Homo sapiens: one gene and its partner. The protein of the gene in region 2 interacts with the protein of the main gene of each other region in a pairwise test. Each region holds a gene or a part of one and is shown on either strand. Other genes may lie near its edges.

Region 1 (3,746 bases), on a different chromosome or scaffold from region 2:
GTCAGCTTCTCCCGCAAGGGCTGGGAGGTGATCAGGGGGTGTGGGAAGCCCCAGCTGGGCTCCTCTGGCCACAGCTGATTCCCTTCTGGGTCACTATTCTGAACAGATGAGAAAACCCTGGGGCTTAAAAAAGGCATCTTCCTGCACTAACTGACCAAACACACGTGGGGAGAATGTTTGCGTCTCCCTGCATGGTCACCAGGACCGCTGGGGGCTGCTGGGGCACAGACAGGTCCCCCTTACCTAGGGAGTGGGCTGCGGTGGTCTCAGAGCTGAAGAAGCGGCCCAGACCAAGGTCACCGAGCTTCACGACGCCCGTGGCTGTGATGAACACGTTGGCAGGCTTGATGTCTGCAGGGCGAGGAGAAGGAGATTGGTGTGGGGTAGGAGGCTTGGGGTAGGTGGGGCAGGACGAGAGGAAGGGGGAGGAAGGTGAGGCCTAGCCCAGGTCCTGCTCCCTCAGGGCAAGGCCCTGTCCTGGCTCTGGCTGTGGGACCTCGGGAAATTGACCATTTCTGAGCCTCAGTTTCTTCATATGAAAAATGGGTCTCCCTCCACCAACTTGACAGAGCTGCTGTGAGGGTTAAGACAGCAGGGGTTTCTGTGCTCCTGTTTCCTGCTCTAGAGCTGTATCCTCCATGCCTAGAACAGTGCCTCGCACACAGGAGGCCCTCAGGGAAAATCTGCGTAATGAATGAACGGAGTGCTCAGTGGAGCACCCAGTGCCGTACCCCCCAGTGAGGGCGGGGCCTCCAATACAGCAGACACCAAGAGATACAGGTAGAGTGAAGGAACGGAGGTGTCCATGAAGCAGCCTACGTAAAGGACCTCGTGCCCTGCCGGGCACCCAGCAGGCTCCTTTCTCACAACTCGGAATCATGTCAACTGTGGAAACACCCCTCTCAGGTGCCTCCCCTTCTCAGCCCAGCCCGCTGAGACGGCAAAGCCCCCATGAAAGTCCCCTCTGTGCGAGGCTTCCTCGACCTCCCTCCCAGGCTGCTGTGGGGAACTGGAAGTGGTGTGCCAAGCGGGGCCCCTGCCCCCTGGGGCTCATGTCACTTTCCACCTCGGGGAGGTTCCTGACCCGGGCGCGTGTGTGTGCGCGGTTGCTGGGCAGCCCCCTTGCCTGGGGAATACAGAGCGGTCCAACTTCCTCAAGGGGCTGCCCCTGAGGACCCTGGAGGAGCCATGAGGAAGTGTCTTCCTGGGCTCCAGGTGGCTCCGGGCGGCTCCTGGCGGGTGGCACGTACCTCGGTGCATCACCCGGCGTGAATGCATGTGCTCCACGGCGCTGCACAGCTGCACAAAGTACTTCCATACTGTCCTCTCCGGGATGAGCCGCTTCTGCTTCTTAAAGTACTGCAGTGGGGGAGACAAGCAGAGGGATAGGCCCGGGTGAGCGGGCTTGGAGGTGGGTGGCCACAGGGCACTGCCTCTGTCCTTTCCCCAGTGGGTAACTGGTGCCTGGCAGGGGCGGGGGGGGGGGATTGAGCCACTGAGCAAACAATAAGCCCAGAACCAAGAGTGCTGTGTCCACGCCTCTACTTCTGCCTGAATGGCACTCTGCAGCCACCCTGTCCCAACCCAGCAAGCTCCGTGAGGGCCAGGCAGGCCTGGCATGTCCGGATGGCTTTGCTGCATGGACACCCAGCTCAAATATGCTGAAAGTGGCCCTCAACTGCATTTTTCCAGAACCTCCTGGACACCCCCTCCACAGGGCACTCCTTGCAAGACTGAAATGGGTGTGGACTCTCCCTGTCCCCAGCCCCAGCCTGGCCCAGGAGGGTGGCACCCAGGACACACGTGGTGGTTAAATCACAGCTGCCCCCATCTCCTCGGAACCAGCAGATCTCAGTGCACTGGAATTCTTAACAAACGCGGCGAGAACCTTGAGGAAATGGGCTTGACGCACTCAAAAGGAACCCCAGTTCCAACGGGCATCAGTCTGCTTCACTGCCTGGGAAAACATATTTAGTGCTCCAGGAAGAAAACAAAAACTAAAGGTCCCCGGCCACACTGAGTGAGCTGTAAGTAACAGAAGGTCCTGGAGAGGGCAGGCCCAGAGCATGTGACAGCCACGGCTCAGCTAGAGACGGGGGTGGCTCTCAGGTGCCAGGCCCATGCCTGTGGGGCAGGACTTCTTCACCAGCTACCTGCATACCAGCTTTTTGTGCAGGGGCTTTTTGCTTCAAAGCAACCACCTTTCCCCAAAGCAGGCAGAGGCGGCGCTGTGGGCCTGCTGGTCAGGGCAGCTGCTCTGGTGCTGGGAAGCTGGGAACTGACCAGGACACACTGGCCTGGAAAGGGGCATGGGTGGAGGAAAGGAGCTGGGCCAGCACTTTCAGACCACCTGCAGGGTGTGGCCACCATGCCGGGCCTAAGAGGGAGGGCTAGGCCCATCTTACAGACAGGGAAACGAAACTGAGGGCCACGTAGAAAGAGGCAGAAACACAGCTCAGCCCCAGGCCTCCCACCTAGAAAGCCCAAGTCCTTAGCCCACTTCTTTTTTTTTTTGAGATGGAGTCTCCCTCTGTCGCCCAGGCTGGAGTGCAGTGGCGTGATCTCAGCTCACTGCAACCTCCACCTCCTGGGTTCAAGCAATTCTCCTGCCTCAGTCTCCCGAGTAGCTGGGATTACAGGTGTGCGCCACCACGCCCAGCTATTTTTTGTATTTTTAGTAGAGATGGGGTTTCACCACGTTAGCCAGGCTGGTCTCGAACTCCTCACCTCAGGTGATCTGCCTGCCTCGGCCTCCCAAAGTGCTGGGATTACAGGCGTGAGCCACCACGCCTGGCCCCCTTAGCCCACTTCTAATAACACCAGTAACCATTGATATGGGAGACTGAGCTCAGAGGTTCAGGAACATGCCCAAGGTCACCCAGCACCCAGCTGGGACCCAGGTCTGGGTGCTTCCCACGGTGGGACAGTCGCAGTGGGGAGCCCCTGACCTCGCCGTAAATCCCCTCGAGGCTGTTCTGAGGTACAATTCTGGGAGGCCCTCTCAGGTGAGCCGTCCCAGGTCTCAGCACAGACCCCACCCCCAGGCCACCTCCAGGCCTGTGGCGGGCCAGGCCGGGATGTTATTCACGCTGTGATGTGAGTGAATCCTCATTACAGCATTTAAGCAGGGACGCGCGTGGCCGAGAGTGGTGATTTTCTAAATGTCATGTCCTATAAGCGCTGTCTGACATTTAGCGGGGAGGCGCAGAGTCTCTGGTGGGTTCTGGGGCTACGGCAGCTCCTAGCTTCACTCTTCCTCGTAAATAACTCGGGCACCATGGCTGTGATGGCGCAGCTCAGCCCTTGAGGCTGCAGGCTCTCGGGACACAATCCCTGCTGCCTGACAGCCTCTGAGGCCAGTGGGGCGACCATGGGGTATCCCCTGTTCCTCTGGAAACCCAGAGGTGGCCTGAGAGCAGGCAGAACCAGGGGAACCGAGCTCCCACCAAACCCCAGGCATTGTGCTGGTATGTTACAGATGAGGCAACTGAGGCACAGGGACCCGCCTGAGGCCATCCAGGGGACGTGTCTTACTCGAGTGGGTCTCTGCACTGCCAGGCCTCCCCTGCTGGCGGCTGCACCGAGCCAGCTCTGCAGGTGAGGGCCCCTGAGCCGGGTTGGAGGGAACGGGAGCAGGCAGGGACAGTGGGGGGAGAGAGGTGGGGACTGTGGGAGGGGGAACCATGCCAGGTGAGGAGGAAGGACCCGAGGCGTGGGGGGCCAGGTGGCTGCTCAGAAACTGAGGC
Region 2 (3,746 bases):
GTCAGTAAAAGAACCTAATTTTTAAGTCTTGTATAAAATTATATCTTAGGTTATATTTTTACTCATAATGCTTTGTCATATAGTTTTAGTAGCTTTATTATGTAACATTGTCAATACATTTTGATGTTGAAAACAGCATTAATTACGAGTTTACAACCTTTATTTAAATTAAATCATCTTAGCCTACTTTTTGAAAAAGTAAATTCCATCTTAGATATAAACAGAAATAACTTGAATTATTTAACATGTTTATATTATGCTGACTGAAAAGTTTTTTGAATGTATGGAAAGGAAAGAAAGGTAAGCTAAGTTTAACTATCTGTTTTGGGTTTTTTTTCCCTCAAAAAAGCTGGTAAAAAGTCCTTTTCAGTTTTTAATAGGGGAGAAAACTACTTTTGTTCATACCATATACCATATATCATTCCTCAATAGCACCCTCTATAATAGAAACTATAGAGAACTTTTAGGCCTACTTGGATAAGGTAAAAAGGAAAAATAAATCAAGTAGAAAATTTTACCATAAAACAACCTGAAGTTTCCTCTTCTACATTCCCACTTGCTTTAGGGTTGATAACCCTTTGTGAGAAAGGGAAAGAGTAGGTAAATAAGTTGGCTGAAATCAAGAGATCCACAGAAAACTACCATTTTTTACTTTAAAAAGACAATTATTATTGGATTATTATAGCTACAATATTCTCATTCCAGTTGAAAATGAAATTGATATGTGCTTATTTTGAGTTTAACCCAGAATTATTTATGGGAATTTATTTATTTCACATAAATTCGGAACTGGCCATATGGCAGGTGTGTGTTTAACTTTATAAGAAATTACCATTTCGCATTCCCACCAGCAATGAGTGAGAATTCCTGTTATTTCAAATCCATGTGAGCAATTGGTATTGTGTTTTGGATTTTAGCCATTTTAATAGGTATACAGTGGTATCTCATCTTGATTTTAATTCTTATTTCCCTAATAGCTATAATGTTGAACATCTTTTTATGTAATTACATATTTATTATCACAGATTGTGCTAATGTACCATGGGCTATAGATATAGTTTTTATGCAGGAGTTCTCTAAGACCTCAAAATCATTTCAAAGACTCCTCCAGGGTGAAAAGATTGAGATTTGAGGTGATGAAAATGTTCTGAAACTAGTTAGAGGTGTTAGTTGTTGCACAACAGTGTGAATGTACCAAGTACCACTGAATTGTATACTTTTAAATAGTTAGTGGTTAATTTCATGTTACATGAAATTTACCTCAAAAAATTTAAAAATATACATTAAGAAAGGCTGACAAGGCTCTTTGAAGGGTGAGAGATGAGATCTGACCTTGAAAGAAGCTGAAGATCTAAATTTAAATAAGAATTGCCCAGTCTGGACAATACAGTGAGACCGCATCTCTACAAATAATAATTTAAAAAATTAGCTGGGTATGGTGGTGCATGTCTGTAGTCCTAGCTACTGTGGCAACAGAGGTGGGAGGATGTCTTGAGCCCGAGAGGTTGAGGCTGCGTGCAGTGAACTGTGAGCTGTGATCCTGCCACTGCACCCCAGCCTGGGAGAAAGAGCAAGACCCTATCGCAAAAAAAAAAAGATGGAGATGGCTCGAATGAGTGTTTTTCAAACACTGATTGCACAACCACAGTAATAGGCATATTTTAGTGCAGGCCAGTTCACATACATACACAAGCACACACAGGAAGGACAAAAAGGTCCGTGCAACACTTAACTCCTCTCAAGCATAATACACTCTAATTCTTCATTCTACCCCACTCTCTTCTTTTTCTTTTTTCCTTTTCAAAAAAAAAAAAAGCTGGTCATGATTCATTAAATTCCTTTTTTTTTTATTGCTGCAAATTCAAATATGTTTTCTTTTTTCTTAAGGAGGACTTTGCTTCACTACAAATTAGATGATGGGCTATTTACAGCAAACCCTCCTAAGATGGTGGCAAGGTAGCTTCATTAAAAGCAGAAAGAGCGGCCAGGCGCGGTGGCTCACGCCTGTAATCCCAGCACTTTGGGAGGCTGAGGCGGGTGGATCAACTGAGGTCAGGAGTTCGAGACCAGCCTGATCAACATGGTAAAACCCCAATTCTACTCAAAATACAAAAATTAGCCAGGCGTGGTGGCACACACCTGTAATCCCAGCTACTCAGGAGGCTGAGGCAGGAGAATCGATTGAACCTGGGAGGCAGAGGTTGCAGTGAGCCGAGATGGCGCCATTGCGCTCCAGCCTGGGTGACAGAGCGAGACTCCATCTCCAAAAAAAAAAAGCAGAAAGAGTGAGCTCTTCATCATTCATTAGAGACACTCAGGATCAGGATGGGCCACACAACCATCTGTCCAAAATACTGCAGAAAGGATTTTTGGCTTTGGCTGGAAATGTCCCTTTTAATTTTAATATTTTCAATTTTGATAATATGCCCAAGATTCTCTTGCTCAATACAAGTTCAGCATGGAAATTGTTGGAAAAAAGATACAGTGTATCTAGAATTTAGTTGTGATATTTCCCTAAGGTTTTCAACTCATATCAAAATAATTGTAATGTCATCAGAGGTACAAATGTTCATATTTTAGAAGGCACCATACTTCTTGTATTTGAGAGAGAGAAATACAGGTTGCGTATCACCTAGCCGTGGACAGAAATCAATCTATTGCTTTTGACTGACCACTGGCAGCTAAGTAAGGGGCACATAAGTTCCTTTTCAATTCTATGGAAAAGCAATAAAAGTTAGCTGTGTTATAATTTTAAATCCAAACAGCCAAGTAATTATGCTATCTACAGGAGGCCAAGGTTTTTCACTTGGTAATTTAATTCAGCAAGCAGGGGAGGGGGGAAGGGCAAGACTAAAAGGCCAGATATGGCTTTACTGACTTTCTAACCATTCTATGCCAGAGAACATCCAATCTTTTAACTAAGTACAAGTTTTTAAAATATTAATTTGTGGGCAACACACAGTACATTTAGTACCAAGGCTAGTGTAACAATTTTTTAAATGTAGTCACCTAATTTTGGCATATACTAGGATACTCAATAAATAAATACTGATTTGTTGAATGAGTCCAAGGTACTGTCATTCTCTAGTACACACGCACATACACACATGCACGCACACACTCCCATTGTTCTCAGGCATAAAGTAAATAAATGTTTTAAATATTCATGAGTCTAGAAATAGACCCACACGTAGCTGGATGCTTGATTTTTGACAAAGTGGCTCTGCAGAGACATGGAGAAAGAGTGATCTTTTCCAAAAATTATTCATCAAAAACATCATTAAGAGAAGGAAAAGGCCAATCACAGACAAGAAGATACCCAAAATTTATATAGAACTTCTACAAATCACTAAGAAATAGGCAGACAACCCAGTAAACATTAGACAAGAGATAAGTAAGTACTACACAAAAAAGTAGTGACCAATAAATGGTCATACAAATAAAGCCAGGCACGGTGGCTCACGCCTGTAATCCCAGCACTTTGGGAGGCTGAGGCGGGCGGATCGCCTGAAGTCAGGAGTTCAAGACCAGCCTGGCCAACATGGTGAAACCCCGTCTCTACTAAAAATTAAAAAAAAAAAAATTAGCCAGGCATGATGGCGCATGCCTGTAATTCCAGCTACTCGGGAGGCTGAGGCAGGAGAATCGCTTGAAGCCAGAAGGCGGAGGTTGCAGTGAGCCGAGATTGCACCACTGCACTCCAGCCTGGGCAACAGAGCAAGACTCCGTCTAAAAAAAAAAGCAGT

The links.
Region 1: the proteins of EFHC2 (region 2) and NEK6 interact in binary tests that used the Homo sapiens proteins (3 or more experiments, as listed by UniProt).

Annotation. Positions count from the first base shown.
Region 1 is NC_000009.12:124,323,943-124,327,688, reverse strand, and holds part of NEK6 (serine/threonine-protein kinase Nek6), read right to left. Parts: intron 1,360-3,746; coding exon 1,251-1,359; intron 352-1,250; coding exon 244-351; intron 1-243. UniProt on the Homo sapiens protein: Protein kinase which plays an important role in mitotic cell cycle progression. Required for chromosome segregation at metaphase-anaphase transition, robust mitotic spindle formation and cytokinesis.
Region 2 is NC_000023.11:44,336,927-44,340,672, forward strand, and holds part of EFHC2 (EF-hand domain-containing family member C2), read right to left. Parts: intron 1-3,746. UniProt on the Homo sapiens protein: Microtubule inner protein (MIP) part of the dynein-decorated doublet microtubules (DMTs) in cilia axoneme, which is required for motile cilia beating.